Linked DNA regions of Homo sapiens: region 2 is linked to region 1. A link means that fine-mapping ties the variant in region 1 to the expression of a gene that starts in the linked region. Tissue or cell type: lung. Region 1 holds a variant in brackets; the other region holds the start of a gene. All regions are shown on one strand. Distances are between the middles of the regions.

The links. PIP is the estimated chance that this variant, and not a neighbour inherited with it, causes the effect.
Region 2: CCNY starts here. The variant in region 1 is fine-mapped to the expression of CCNY in lung (TOPMed, PIP above 0.99). The same link has a PIP of 0.9 or more in fibroblasts.

What each region holds. Positions count from the first base shown.
Region 1 is chr10:35,567,986-35,576,088 of GRCh38, forward strand. CCNY (cyclin Y) reads left to right here. Exons shown (of 10, transcript NM_145012.6): 10 at 1,069-4,682. The coding sequence ends at 1,185. Among named protein-coding and RNA genes, the nearest start is that of GJD4, 33 kb to the right of the region's middle. The variant TA/T (reference allele first, on the strand shown) is at 3,333.
Region 2 is chr10:35,332,182-35,340,265 of GRCh38, forward strand. It overlaps CCNY (cyclin Y), which reads left to right and starts at 4,328. Exons shown (of 10, transcript NM_145012.6): 1 at 4,328-5,026. The coding sequence starts at 4,873. It overlaps CCNY-AS1 (CCNY antisense RNA 1), which reads right to left and starts at 4,243. Exons shown (of 4, transcript NR_186477.1): 1 at 4,039-4,243; 2 at 3,747-3,895. RefSeq lists an enhancer at 60-354 and a silencer at 3,954-4,693.

The sequences.
Region 1 (8,103 bases):
TGAGAGCATGAGCCCCCTCTCAGCCTGTGCTGTGGTCCCTGGTCCCCCTCGTCACCAGCTATGGCTCTAGTGGCTGCTTCAGTGCTAATGAGACAAGCCGGAGCTCCTGGCAGCTACACAGCTCTGCAGGAAAGTGAGTCTTGTGTTCTCTGCTGAAGAATATCTGGGGCTCTGAGTCAGTCACCCTGAGAGCACAGGCCGAGGTTGGTGGAGTTGGCACCTGCTGTTCCCTCAGGTTTCTCCGAGTGCCGAGAAGGGAGAGCTCACCTGCTTCTGGGGCTGCTGTGTCACGGGCCCTAGGGGTTCAGCAGGGCAGGAGAAAAGGCCAGTCATATCCTGACAAGGCTGCTCTTTCTCTTCTCCAAATAATCAAAGCCTGGGACAGTGGGCTCAGCTTTTACCATCAGCCAGTTCTAGCCACACCCAGTGGCAGCCCTGGGAGAGTTGTTGCCAGAGTAGCATGGTCCCCCGTCCTTATCACCAAAGTGTTGATTATCTGCACATCTCATATTTTTGTGATCCCCCTGGGTCCCTCTTTCGGCAACCCTCTAGAGGTGACTTAAGTCCTCCATCCTTTTCTGTGGAGTCCCTAGCTGGTGGTCTGGCTGCAGCTGTCTTTGCCGCCAGCGGCCGAGCTCTCCTCTCTGTGAGGCTCAGCTCCAAGCCCGTGCTTCATGCCAGCCCTGCCAGGATGGTGCTGTTCTTGCCCCGCTTGCAGGTGAGGACGCCAAGGATTCAAAACAGCACGCGTGTGGGTGGGGCCCGTCCCACACCCCTAGATGGGGAGCCAGCGTTGACCCTGGTCGGGCCGACTGTGAGGTGACACTGTACTGTTATTTCACATCCTGAGAGTCTTTTCTCAGACTGTAAGCTCTTGGGAAACAAGAGCTGAGTCCACACTCCCTTCGTATCTCCCTGCTGCCAGCAGAGAGCTGGGCTCTGGGCCGGAGCTCCACAGGGGCAGGGGCTCTGCCTGTCCCTCATGCAGCGCCCTCGGCGCCCAGGACGAGTGAGCAATGGACGCAGATATGGCCCGCCCTGACCCACACTGTCTTTCTTGCCCCTCAGGCCATCTCTCGCCTCTGCGAGGACAAGTACAAGGACCTAAGAAGATCCGCGAGGAAGCGCTCAGCCAGTGCAGACAACCTGACTCTGCCCCGGTGGTCCCCAGCCATCATCTCTTAACTACGGAGGCCCGCCGGAGGCCACACCATCCCTTAGTTTCTCCTTTAGTTTGAGAAAAGACAGACTTGGGGTGGGTTTGTTTTTGTTTTTTCTTTCCTTTTCTTTTTTTACGCATAGCTCCGTCAAGCTGCCTGGATGAGCGCCCATGCAGCAAGGCTTGGAGGAAGCGTCAGTGCCCTGGAGATCCCAGCTCGCTCTCCCCACTGTCAGCAACAGCACTTCCTTCGTGGAGGAAGTGGACTCGAATCCTGGAGGAGGAAATAAAGGGAAAGGGAAGTCGTGGAGAGGCAGGGAAAATGGTTAAGCAGCCCGGCCCTCTGGAGTCCCCATGGGGGCGGTAGCTGAAGTTGGCGAGCGCAGCGGTGGATGCAGAGCTGGCTGCACCCAGGGCTGGGCCAGTGTGTCCTGTAAGACTTCTTGCATTCCTTCTGCTGCTTTTTTGGGATGGGGGTATTTTTGTTCATTTGTTTTTGCCCTGTTTTGATTTTGGTCCCACAGAGCAGGGGATGTAGTTTGTACCCACCATGGCGCAGACTTCCAAATAAATAGTACTGGTCATTTCTCTCTGCACTATTTCTGCGCGCTGTCTTCTGAGCTTTCTTCCTCACCAGTGGGCTGTGCTTGTTCCATTTCTGTACACCCTTATTTTATACCGTTTTTCTTCAACAATGGCGAAATTGACTGTAGTGCTGAACCAAAAGTATCCCTTTCCCTCCTTATTCCTCACCCCAAGAACATTCTAGATCACATGGGTGCTTGTGCCTTCCGATTTTCTTGCATTTGTTTTTTTCCTGACCTGAAGTTGTTGTTACAAAATCAGTCAGACTTTGTGGGCTGAAGGACACGGTGCAGCAGAGGGTGTCCCTGTGAGAGTTCTGCAGAGTGCTGGGCATGTGCCTGGAACTACCGAGTAGGAGCCATTTCTTTGTACCCCTGCCTAATCCATTCCTCTCCTTCCAAGTCCATTGTTGCAAGCAATATTCTTCTCAATTTTTATATGTTTACTTTAAATCAAAGTTAGTCTATTTGTATAAAATTTTTAAAAAATCTAAAAGAAAAAGAAAAAAAACAAGGGTGGGTTGGGTATTCCAGTGGGAAGATCATTGAAGGGAAAAATGTTACTATTTACTGAGGTATTTTTCACAGAATGATTGAATTAAAAAAAACTCAACTTGCATTTTCATTGTGGGTGCTTAGAGAAGTTCTACAAAATTCAAACTGTGAAGGTTTATGCTTCATTAATTATGACCATACTTTTTCATTTTCTGACGATCCCTGATTTCCTTATGGACTCAATAAGAATCTTTTATATCAAGTAAAATGAAAGTTGATGATAGAATATCAAATAGTGAATTTGATATGAAATCTAAGAGTGTGAGTCACTTGCATATGTAATGCTTTGGGTTTTTGCATATTTTCTTAGGTCACAGTGACAGGTTTCTGAGTTGTTTCCCTTTTCAAGTCTCTGGGAGGCCAGTGGCAGCAGCAGGTCTGTGTTTCACCTTCTTCCCATGTGAGCTTGGAAAACTTTGGCATCTTAATTAGTCTTGAATCATACACCTGATCCCCAAACATTGCCTGCTCTCAATGAAACATGCTTTGGAAATGGAAGGGACTCAGAAAGTCGAAATCCCAAGAACTCCAAGCCAAAAGTGTTAGGTTTTAGTGAAATTTGTGTCAGGTATAAGCATACCTGTTTGGGCCAGAATTATTATCACAGCCTTTCTGACCCAAACTTTCAAAAGCAAATAAACAGCATATAAAACGTTAATTATCTTTCCATTGTAATTGTGATGATCTACTCTGTATGGGTACCAAAATCACCTTCTCTCTTCAAGTCAAAGTTGAATTTAGAACTTTGAATACAGGTCAAAAAATGTAGAAAATATCATTTTATATTCCCTAATCTATATAGCTGAAAAAGGGTTGTATTTTCTTAGCTGAATATGAATACCTCTTAAACATAAATTAGTTCCTCTCCAGTGAAGTATCTTATTTTACCAATCCATTTCAGGAAAGAGGTTCTGCTGCCGTAAAGGCAGAAATTTTATTTTTATCCCTTTTATTTGAATGAGAGATTTGAAAATCGAATTATGTAAATATTTCAATGCATCTGCTATTATTTTGTGGAGTTTATTAAACTACTT[TA/T]AAAAAATTGTATAGTCTATTTATTGTATGTATGTACATACAGTCTGATACCTAAAATTTAAAGTGGATTCCATAAAACCAGACTCAAGTCTTGTTTAGACTACTGAATACTGTTTTAGCCTGTGCCCTGGATTCTACCTCTGTATAGGAAAATTTTCCATATTCATTAATTAGTGTTGATCTGTATTAATTGGTTATGTTTCTTGCACTAAGGATGTTTAAAACTCCGCTGTAAGTGTAGATTTTAGTTTTACTGGCAGGATGAATCACTTGACACATAGGTAGATACTTGAGGTTCATTTTCTTTTCTTTTTCTACATGATGATGAATAGTTATGTTTTCTTCTCTGATTTGTTCAAAGTTTGCCAAAAGAAAACACAAAACCAGTACAGTACTTACTGATAAATCGTAGTGACTGTAATTTGTTTGTAAGGCGAATTAATGCTCTACAATTAAAGCTGGATTACTATTGAGGAACACATTGTCTTAGTGTAGTTTTTGAATGGAAAGTTTTTGTCATTAAGGATGAAGGAAACGACACAATTTGTTACTTTAATTTTATATTTGATTTAAACAACAAATAAAGTCATTGGGACAATAAATATATATCCCGATGAATCTTTTTGATTTGTTTTACTTTTCTTATTTTTTTTTTTTTAACTAGAAAAAGGGAAAGAAGAAGTCAGGAGTTTAAAACCAAATTGGAGGGCAGATGAGAAATCCTGCCAAGATCGGGATGTGCCTTCATGCATGAGGTGAGGCCAGAGGTGTGGGCACCTGTACCTGCCTCCTCTTCTGGGCTGGCTTTCCTGTCTGCCTGCTCTCGGGCTTGGGCAGAGCCATCTCCATCCTGGGGTTTCCTTTAAGCTAAGCTGAAAGCAAAATTTGGGGAGTGAATGATTTAAACTTTTCCTGCTGCTTTTGGTAACTTCTCACCTGGGGCCATATTTTACAGATTTGAATTTTTTTTTTTCTTTTTTTGAGATGGAGTCTCGCTCTTGTCACCCAGGCTGGTGTGCAATGGTGCGATCTGGGCTCACTGCAACCCCCACTTCCCGGATTCAAGCAATTCTGCCTCAGCCTCCCGAGTAGCTAGGATCACAGGCACCCACCACCATGCCCAGCTGATTTTTGTAGTTTTAGTAGAGACAGAGTTTCACCACGTTGGCCAGGCTGGTCTCAAACTCCTGACCTCAAGTGATCCACCCCCCTCAGCCTCCCAAAGTGCTGAGATTACAGGCGTGAGCCACTGCCCCTGGCCCAGATTTGAAATTTTTTAAAAATAAAACATGATTCTTGGTTATTGTAGGTATTTAATAAATGTTAAATAAATATATACATAGAACAAAGTAGTGCCTGCCTTCCTGCTGTGTTTTTTGAGTTAGTATATTGAGATAAAATTCAACAGGTTTTATGGATGCTGAGTGAACCAGTTCTTTGCAAGAGCAGTGGTAGAAAGTGGTATTGGCCCTGTGTTCTTGAGCGACTCACAAAAGTATGAGAGCTACTCCAGCAATTGAGAAGTTGCACAATAGAGACCTAATAGAACATGTCACTTTCATATTGATACCCCATTTTGTCTGAAACCACTTTATCTCCCTTGATGTCATTGGAGTCAGCATCTTGGGTGGGTCTTAAAGACATTATCTTCTGAAAAGTCAGCCATGATGAGGTCCTACCCTTGTTGAAAAAGAGAAGGAAACAAGAAACATGCTCTTGCACTGAGACAGGAACAGGATACTTAACTTGGGTTTTATATATATATTTATTTTTAAATATATATATATTTTTAAACAGAGTCTCACTTTGTCACTCTGCCTGGTGTGCAGTGGCACAATCATAGCTCACTGTAGCCTCCAACTCCTGGGCTCAAGTGATCCTCCCGCCTCAGCCTCCCTGGGACGATGGGCCTGTGCCACCATGCCCACCTAATTTACTTGTTTTTTTTTTTTTGAGATGGAGTCTCACTCTGTCGCCCAGGCTGGAAGTGCGGTGGTGCAATCTCAGCTCACTGCAACCTCTGCCTCACAGGTTCAACTGATTCTCCTGTCTCAGCCTCCCAAGTATCTGGAACTGCAGGCACACACCACCACACCTGACTAATTTTTGTATTTTTCATAGAGATGGGGTTTCACCATGTTTGCCGGGCTGGCCTCAAACTCCTGACCTCAAGTGATCCGCCGGCCTCAGCCTCCCAAAGTGCTGGGATTACAGGCGTGAGCCACTGCTCCTGGCCAGGCTAATTTTTAAATTTTCTATAGAAATGGGGTCTTGCTGTGTTGCCCATGCCGGTCTTCAACTCCCAGCTTCAAGTGCTCCTCCTGCCTCACCCTCCCAGGGTGTTATGTCTTTAGCTGCATGGATTTCAAGCCAAGGCCTGCAAACAGCTTGGTTAAGGTGCTGACTTGCTGTTATTGAATGCAGCGCCCTGCTAGAGCTGTTGCACCCAAACAGGGCTGGGGAGATGCCCAGGAGTGCTTGCAGTCACAGTGGTGGGGCTGGAGTTCGTACCTCCAAGTCAGCAGGCTCCCTGCCTGTTTTCCTGTTAGATTTTCTTACTAAGTTTGCATATGTGAAGGGGCTAAAGGTCCTGTCTGTCACTCTTCTCAGCAGTGATCAACCTCAAAATGAGCTTCTTAATCTGGCAGCTGCTGTCTCTGTGCACTGTGGCAGGTCTGAGCTGGGCACAGCAGCTGGGTGAGGACTTGGCCTGGCAACTGTATCTGTCCTTCATAGGTTTTTGTGAAAAGAGTTCTGCAGAACCTGTTACAGTAAGAAGTGAACTCAAACATGATGTCTGACTTAATGATGTTCAGATTCTACAGGTCTCAATAAACTTTCCAGTGTCCTTTAAGGGACTTGGTTTCAGTGGGGGGCTTTCCTTTTAAGAATTTTTGTTCATATAAATAAGTTATTTCAAATAAGGGATAAAAGAATGGCATTACAAAATATAGTTTGGGATAGAAATATTAAATGTAGCGAGAATTTATGCATAAGATGTTAACATCGGTATTGATTTTTTTGTCATGGAACCTTGGGTTTTAGTCTCAGTCCAAAAGATTAACTTGCTCTGTGACCTTGGACAAATTATTTGACCTCTCTGGACCTCTCAGTGACCTTGGCTGTGAGGGAGACTCTTGTTTTCATCACCTGTCTTAGTCTGTTTCTGAGCACACTCTGCTCAGCCATTCAGCCACAATTGTTGGACGCTCCTCTAAATGTAGCAAGGGTGGACATAGTAAAAGCCAAGTGCAAGCCTAACGGTGACAGAAAACCCAGGACGAGGGGAAGTCGGTTGTGTTCTCCAGGTCCTCTCCTAAAGAAGGGTGGCCATGGGTAGAAGCAGCAGGTCTTACAGGACCTGGGTACCCAGTTTTCCGCTGCTGTCCCTTCTTCCCCAGCTCTCCCAAGTACAGCTGAATGCTCAGCGTGGCCTCTAGTTGGCCATTCCTGGACCTGGTTTGTGAGTTCTTGTCTGCATTGGTGGATCCTGGAAATCTCGAAACAGTGGAAGTGGGTGTGTGAATCCACTGCCAAGTGCCTCTGTCCTGAAGAGGATGCTGCTTCATTTCTGTGAGCTCCAGCAATGCTTCCTTAGACCTGCTGACCAAAGCTCAGGAAGCCAACCTCGGAAGAGAAGGATTTTGCACCTCCTCCCGTGCAGACACCAGCACTAGGGGGCAGCGCGTGGTAATGATGACTCTGCAGGGGCAGGACCCCCCAGGACCAGGCCTTGGTGCAATGCAGCAGGCATGTGGTCTGGCAGGTCCCATGGCTGTGATCAATTCTGAGTCACTTCATCTTTAAAACAGAGAAATGTGTGACTTCCAGAGCCTTTCCGTCCCTAATATCCCGTTATGGTTATGCTGGGTTTTGCAGGAGCAACCTCGAGACTAATAAGAGGTTTAGTCACCCCTGCAATCTTTGAAAAACAACAAATACAGGATGTGGAAAAACCGAGAGTGAGGCACCCAGAGCCCAGAATGCTGGGTAGCTCCTTCCCTAGCTTGTGCAGCATCCTGTGCTGAGCCACGGCCCCTTACGTGTAAGCAAAACTCGAAACAAAATTCCTGTTCTAGAATATTATCTAGAAAATGTGTACTTGTTTTATACTGACGTAATTCCTTCAACAAATATTGAGCTGGACACTGTCTAATTCATGTTGGGGATGGATATGGCTTTCTTGGGGGATGTTCTAGTGGAGCAGATGGTCAAATAAGTTAGCGTGTAAAAAGGATCTTGGTAAGTGTCAGGAGGGAAATTGAGTGGTTATGATAGTAACTAGGAGGTGGCAGCTTGATGGACATGACCTTTTGAGTGGACGTCTCCGTGGAAGAGATGGGGAGAAGGGAAGATGGATGGAGATGTGGTTGGAGAAGAGCTGATCAGCCCAGGCCTCACAGGCATTGCTGAGGAACACAGATTTGAAGACCAATGGGAAACTGCCACAGAATTTAGTTAGTTCTGGTGCTCAAGGAGTGGGTGTGACAGGCAGCACGGTTCCCGCCTGGACGGCCACAAGGTGGAGAGAAGGGCCACATGTACTTCAGAGGTTACACATAGGAAAAGAAAGACCAGTTCTCGCCACACTTCTGGGGTGAACCATCGGTAAGTTGTAACAGATAATGTGTTCCTGAGGTTAGTCCAAATCCTGAGTACCGGTAATCTACCATGCATCATACACAATGAGACTGTGTCAAGATGAAAAACCCGGACCCCTGCTCTCAAAAGCTGTGTTTGGGCTGGATCAATGAAAACAGACACATTTTC
Region 2 (8,084 bases), 240 kb before region 1:
TATTTCACAACTGCCTTATAAATGCTCGAGTAACCGTCATGAGAAACTGACTACCAGGTGAAAGGGCAGCCATACTCTGAGGAGACACTACAGATTTTCCTTTCCACAAAAGGTTCAGGTCCTGGGCTAACTTGGCTCAGTGTTTTCTGTGTTCCAGAAGGTGACTCAGGGAGTTGTGCAAATGACTGACTCATATTTCATGGATACGAGTATGGCTGATGTAAGACTGCAGTTATCTCCTCCTGATTCAATTAAGGTAGACTATTCTTGATTGTTTTTATCAGTAGATCTATAAATTATACAAGTTGATACTAATATTGCTTATGTTTTAAATAGTGTGGTTCCACAGAAAATTTTGTTTTTTCTGTGAGAAACAAAGCTACTATTGCTAAAAAAGTGTCAAGAGCACTGACTTAGCTATAGTTCATCTGAGTTTTTTTTGAGACGGAGTCTTGCTCTGTCACCCAGGCTGGAGTGCAGTGGCACGATCTCGGCTCACTGCAACCTCCACCTCCCGGGTTCACACCATTCTCCTGCCTCAGCCTCCCGAGCAGCTGGAGCTATAGGCGCCCACCACCACGCCTGGCTAATTTTTTGTATTTTTAATAGAGACAGGGTTTCACTGTGTTAGCCAGGATGGTCTTGATCTCCTGACCTCGTGATCCACTCACCTCAGCCTCCCAAACTGCTGGGATTACAGGTGTGAACCACCGCGCCCGGCCCACCTGAGTTTTATATTTACCTGGTTACAGTGACCAAATTCTTCAACAGTGATCATGGAGAAAGATGAGACAAAATAATTCCCAAATGATTCTTTCTGCTCAAAGACCAGGGTGGGTATGAGTAGATCCAGGTCAATTTTTTTTTTCTTTTAAGAGACAGGGTCTCACTCTGTCACCTAGGCTGGGGTACAGTGGTACAATCATAGCTCACTGCAGCCTCCTACTCCCAGACTCAAGCCATCTTCCTAATCCTCCTCAAGCTTGAGGACAGGCCTTGTTACAATGCTCAGTGTGTACCTCTCCCCTTCTCCACTCCCCTTGTCCACATTCTGGGCTAGATCCACACTCTATTGAGGAACTGTCTCTGTATTTTGATTCCCGAGTGACACAGTGTTGGAGATCCTGTGGCTAGATACACAGGTTATTTCTGCATATGGCTACTCCTCAACCTTGTTGCCTGTCTTACTCTGGTCTGAGAGCTGAACCCCACAGAAATAACAAGGCTCCCCTCATCCCTTTCTCTGAAAGATTAGTACTAGTCCTAAGTGGTTAGCTCCCAGCTTCCTTTAGGACAGAAAAAAGAGAAGGAGAGAAGTGACACTTGTTTTTTTACTCACAAAGTCTTGGAGATAGGAGGTAGGAGGTTGGGGTGGATGTAGCTTGGACTTTGGAATTAGAACCAGGTTCAAATCCCCAATTAGGACATTTCTCAGTATTTTGATCTTAGATAGGTTTACTTATCAAAGTGTCTATTTATAAAATGGGGTATAACTTAATCAGATTTAGATGTAAGAAATAGTATAGTGCATGGCAGCTAGCAGGCTTTCAACGAACGACATCTCTCATTACTATCATTTTGACATCACATTTATCTGCTCAGAGTTGGTTACTGTTCTGCAATTTTTCCCAAAGTGTCACTGTGTGTCAGGCAGGGAGTATCTGCCTGGAGGAGTTTGAAGTATGCATGTAGGGTGGATGAGTTGTGGGGGTCGGCACCCAGGTAAATCACTAGCGAGGCTTTAGTACCCGTCTTTTCTCTCCAGGATTCTTGACCAAAAGTTACACTCTAAATTAAAGTCCAAACAGGTACATACCTAAGGGGAATATGGTGGAAATGTCAAAGAGGAGATAGGGAAAGAGGGGGAGGGGGGCGGGGCACAAAAATCCTGGCAGACCAGAGGCTGTACCACCCTTTGTTAAGGGTATGTGGCTACACTGATCTCTCATCCTCCAGATGCTCTTCCCAGTTAACACTGCCCAGTGACCTTCTTGGACAGGAAGCATGCAGCCAGCCATGCTGTCACCTTAGTGCCACTGTCTCTTTCTCCTCTTAAGCCCTTCAAACCATAATTTGAATGTAAATGTTATACATTTTATAATGAAATAAAAATAGCTTAATGCATCTGAGTAGATATGCCACACACCTATGGTCCAATGACTGGATGCTGACTTTCATATGTGGCCCAAATTACAAAGCAGCAATCAGAACAGACAACAACAGACAACAAGGGAACTTCTCTCCCACGGGTTCAGCAATCTGACCCAAACTCCATAGCCCCAGACAATCTGAATACACACATGCAAGTGTAAATATGCCCCAGTTTTCCCAGGAAGCAGGAAAATCTACACAGCCTCAATGAAGAGCACTATTTTGGACTGTTGTTGTCTACCCACCCTCTCCAGGGCTTTAATTCTTTAGAACTTCCCTTTTACACTTCTTTTCTCATCTGGTCAGCATTACCACTTTGCAGCCACTTATTTTCCATGGACATCTGCCACTTATCCTAACAAATAGCATTAATACAGTTGAGAGCATGGAGCGTTTAAAATATGGACTAATAAATGTATAAACAGTACTTTGAGAGGGAGGGAAAGCACAGGTTAAAAAATGGCTAGATGTAGAGAATTAAATGAAATGTTTATAAAGCCGTTCACACGATGTCCACACATTGCTGATGCTAGATAAATATCAAGTCCCTTATTCCTTCTCTTACCTTTTAGTAACTGGATTTGTCACGAACAGGTACTGAGGTCTGCATAAATCAAGGCATGATTTCATCTCTGGGCCTCAGTTTCCTCATATATAAAATTAAGACAGTTGTACTATTGTACTAGTTTTTTTTTCAAGAACTAGTTCAAAAACATTCCCAGCTCCCACCCCCACCCCCCCACCCCACAAGACTCTCCTCAAGACTCCTTCAGTAAATATTTGGAAAAAGGGTGGGAAGTTTGTTTCTGCCACCTTATATTCTTCCCAATAAAGGCAAGAAAAGTCAGGGATGGCTGGCATTGTGGGCGTCGGGAGGGAATGCGAACCAACATTTACTCTACTTCTCTCCCAGCCAGGCATGTTCACATACCTTGATCTTAGTCAACTGGCCTAAGTTAACTTGTTCCCAACATGACAAAACCCGATGGCATTCTAAAAGCAAAGCAAAGCAAAGCAAGGGCAGTCGATGAGTTGTGTTAACTTAGTTTTCTATCTCATGTTAACCTCCAAGGAACTCAAAACAACTCCACAGCGAATTCAATATTAAAATAGCTCTGGGACCCCAAGATTTATTTCACAGCTTAAAGCAAGGTCACTATCAAGTCCTCGGCAAAGCTCAAAATACAATAGAAAACTCCCAAATCAAGCCCCAGCTTATTTAAATGCTTAGAAAAAAAAAATAGCCAGGTGCCGTGGCTCATGCCCGTAATCCCATGGGAGGAGTCCAGACGGGAGGATTCCTTGAAGACAGGAGTTCGATACCAGCCCGGGTTACGAAGCGAGATCCCATCTCTACAAAAAGTTAACACACACACACACACACATTCACCACCTTAGCCTGGCTTAGTGGCGGGCGCCCGTGTTACAAAGGGAGATCCCATCTCTACAAAAAGTTAACACACATACACACCCTACCTTAGCCTGGCGTAGTGGCGGGAGCCTGTAGTCCTCGCTACTTTGGAGACACACACACACACACACACCCGTAGTCCTCGCTACTTTGGAGACACACACACACACACACACACACACACCTTAGCCAGGCGTGGTGGCGCGCGCCTGTAGTACCGGCTACTTTGGAGGCTGAGGCGGGAGAATCGCTTCAGCCTAGGAGTTCGAGGCTGCAGTGAGCCGAGATTGCGCCACTGCCCTCCAGCCTGGGCGACAGAGCGAAATCATACCTCTAAAAAAATAAATTAGAAAAATAAAAAGACAAAAAGAGCCAGCCCGGTTTCGGAGAGGCAGGTGCAGCCTCAGCGCCCTGGGCCTGCGTCCCCGACCGGGCCCTGGCTGCGCTCCCGCCCGCTGCGGGCCCCGGGGACGCACCTCGCATCCCGCGCTGGGCCCCGTTCCGTCCAGCCCGGGGGAGTGGAGGAGGCAGAGGCCGGGTGGGGAAGGGCCTCCAGAAACCGAGCTCCCGACGACGTCTCCCGCGACCCCAGTGCCCGAGAGAGGAGCGGCCCCCGGGAGCGATCCCACAACCGCGCGGGGCTGCGCCGCCCCGAACCTCCCCGCGGCCGCCGATCTGCTTCCAGGGCAGAGGGAAGGGGCGGTGACGGGGCGGGGCGGGGGCTGCGGCGAGGGCGGGCGCCGCTGGCGAGGGAGGGCCGCCAGCATCCTCCCTGGCCGCGCCGCACCGCGCCGCGAGGAGTCCGGGGGCTGCGCCCACGCCCGCTGCCCGCCCGCTCGTCGGCTAGTCCCGCCGTCCGGCGCGGACACGCGTGCCCCCGGCTTGAACCGGAACCTCTTGCCGAGGCGGCCGCCGTCGCCGCAGCCGCCGGGGAAGCGGACACCAACTGGGGAAGCGCGGGGGGGAGGCGGCCTGCGCGGCGCCGCCCGCCATGGCCGCGGCGGGGTGAGGTAGGCGCGGCGGCCGCAGTCGCGCGGACCCGAGCGCTCCTCCGCCGCGGATAGGCCGGCCGAGGGGGAGCCGGGGCCGTCGCCCGCTCGTCGCCGCCGCCGCCGCCGCCGCCCATGGCGAGGCCCCGCCGCCGCCGCCGCTGCTGACCCGGCGGCCGGCCGCCGTTCCGCCCCCTCCCGTGGCGGCGAGCGGGCGGGCCTCCCCACACGCCCCCGCCGCCCGCGCCCCGCGTCCACCCGCGCCCCGCTCCCGGGGACTGGGAGAACAGGATAGCAGCAGGAGTCGGGGGGCCGCCGAAGATGGGGAACACTACCTCGTGCTGCGTGTCGTCCAGTCCCAAGCTCCGGAGGAATGCCCACTCCCGGCTGGAGTCCTACCGGCCAGACACGGACCTGAGCCGCGAGGACACGGGCTGCAACCTGCAGCACATCAGCGACCGGGAGAACATAGACGGTGAGTGCGGCCCGCCGAGCCCCCTACCCGCCCCCGCGGCAACAGTCGCACAGCCAACGTCGGGGCGGCCCGGCTGCTCTTGCTTGCCCAGCCGGTCTCGGCGACCCGTGCATAACCGGGGCTTCGCCCGCGCAGCCTAGGCGCCCGGGGCCCCGCAGCCTCTGGGCGTACCCCTCGCTGGTTACCCCCAAGTGAGCGGCCGCGGAAACTTTGCAGGCCCGCGGCATCGAGCACGGCGGGCCTAGGGCGGGTGTGTGCGCGTGGGTCGCGAGGTGACAGGAGCCGGCCCTCGTCCTTAATGGAGCGGCCAGAGCTGGGTGGGGGCGGCCCGGGAGCTCGGGGTTCCCGGCACTACCTGAATGCAGCCCGAAGCCAAGTTGTGCACGCGTTTGTCCTATAAAAGCGAAGTGAGTGGATTCCCATTTTGGAATCCCGGTGTCTCCAACCTCGAGTTGGAGAACCATGTTGAGTCAGTTCCCCGGAACCTTACAAATGGACTCCACTTCCCCCGTTCCCATTCTACCGTTTTTTTTAAAAAATGATTTTTTTGAGTGGCGGTTCCAGGATTAGTCAAATAGCTTCTCCCGAGAATGCTCTTTAAAAGATTGTCAGACACCTTTGGGTTAAGTCTCAGTTTTTGCATGGGCCCGAATTGCAGTCCTATGAATTTCTGATTTATTCAGGTGACTTTTGGTTGGTCTGGAGTTTGCAAAAAGAAAAAAAGCTAAGACTAATTACTGCACGCAGTAATGTTTTATTTATTTTATTGGTTTGGCAACATATTTATTAGCACTGTTGCTCAGTGATAACGACAGAGGGATATTTATGCATCATGCTTAAAATATAGTTTATAGAATTTTCAACTGAAAAGATTTGAAATTGGAAGTATCTTTTTATGACAAGGTGATTTTTTTAACCCAAACATCTTCTCATAGTTAATCTGGTTGAACTAATATGAAGAAATTTTTGTGTGAATGAATGAACACAACTTCATAATTCGTTCCTGTCCACTTTAGGATGGAAGATTCTCTCCACTGTGGAAAGGCCACATTTAAACTTTGCTAAAGGAAAGATTTTTCTCGTTTGTCTTCGTGTAATTTCTTCTAAATGGTAGTTTAATCTTTTTAGGAGAGCATCTTTATTAAATGAGTGCCATGTATAAAGGGAGTAACACAACGTCTGGTTTCTAGTACGCGCTTAGTAAATTATGGTTCCATATGACGTGTCTAGTGTTGTTATTTTAGATTTCCATTATTTTAAACATACGCTTAGATGTCTTTGAACTACAGCCATACTTTCTTCTTAAATTTATGCATTTAAAGGCATCTAGAAGGATGAAGGCCAGATCGGTCTTGATCACTTTCACAGCCTCTAGCACCTGAAAGAAAAGTCTAGCATATAATAAACAGTAAGTATTGTACTTTAAAGGGAGGAATAAATGAATGAGTTTATTACAGAAAGCCATTACCCAGTCCTATACTATGTTGACAGGCGAAAACATTTGGAAATAATGTCTTCTTTATGATGTGCAGTAAATTTCCTTTTTATGTTGTGCAGTATCTAGCGGAGGCTTTGTTTTGAATGATGGATCAAAAAAGAAAAAAAAGAAGATTTACATTTCTTAGAGCCAGGCTGCATACAGTTATTATAGACTATTGTAAGGAAATAAGGTGGAAAAAATAAGTGTAACCAGGTATTTGGCACTAAGGCTCAGTACAATTTTGCCAGAGTACAGTGAAATGATATTGTGTGTTCTTTCATTTCAAAGAAATCTTAAGTTTCAGTCATCAGGAATTTTTGAGAGAATGTTTGGAAGACTCTTTTGCAGATTCAGGATAGTTTGAGAGAGTATAGGGCAGGTTTCCAATCTAGGCTGTGGAGTGCCCTCTCATCCCAGATCCCAGTTCATATGATTATGCTAGTTTAAACCCCGAAATATTAATTCACCTTCTGTCTCTCAAATTCAATAAATAATACTTCTAGCATTGACCCAGCCAGCAGTTCTCAACATTGGTTTCAGTTAAACCAGAAATCTAGTACTGGACATTGCCATTAATATGTTTAAATCTCTCCAAGGTGATTCTGAGATGCAGGTAGGCCTGAGAATTGCTGGCTGGGCAAATCTTGGAAGTGTTACCTGCCGTTCAGGGACATTTTTGGTAGAAATTCATTATTAGAGGCTGAGAGAAGAGAACAGGTTTTAATTAAATAGAGTGTATATATATACACACTATATACATCTATATGTCTGTATTTGCTCATCTATATCTGTATGTATTTGAACTGAGTTATATTGATTGTTAGGTTATTAGTAAACATTTTAAAACTACATTTTAAGAATCATTGACTCTAGTATATATCAAAAGCTGAAGTACTCAAATACCATATTTTTTATGTCCTGAAAAACATCCCACCCAGCTGGTTTAGAAAGGTTTGAAGTTCATGGGTCTTCTATGATAGGTTAGTGTCTTTAAATCACAGAGATATGACATATGTATCCATGCTTTCTTCCCTTTGTCACCAGGCACATGAAGGGGTAATACTTGTCCTGTAGAATTTCAGTAATTTTAGTGTCTGGGAACTTAGGTGTCTATGGTGCTTAATGGCAACTTAATGTGTCTTTTTGCTCAGTTTATCTTAGTGTTAGGTTATTCATGTTTTTGAAATTGATATTGGACTCATGCTTTCCAGGTATTATTTCTTATAAAATCATTCAGAGATTGAGAAAAAACAGCAACACATAACAACAATAGTAATCTTCAGAACAATTCTTTAGGAAAATAAAAAAATGATAGTAATAATTGCAGCCTATGTATTACTTACTCTGTAGCAGCTGTCACCAGCTGCCGCTCTAAGTACTTGGATTCCATTCATTTACTTAGAACTCACAGTAACCCTATGGGTAATATTACCCTTACTTTAAGACAAAGAAATGAGTCACTGAGAGGAGAAATGACTTGTCCAAAGTCACACAGCCAATACATGGCAAATGGAAACTTTCCATTGTTGCTTGACTTAGCCATCAAACGTTAGCTAGTCTGGGGTTGCCTTCTGGGAT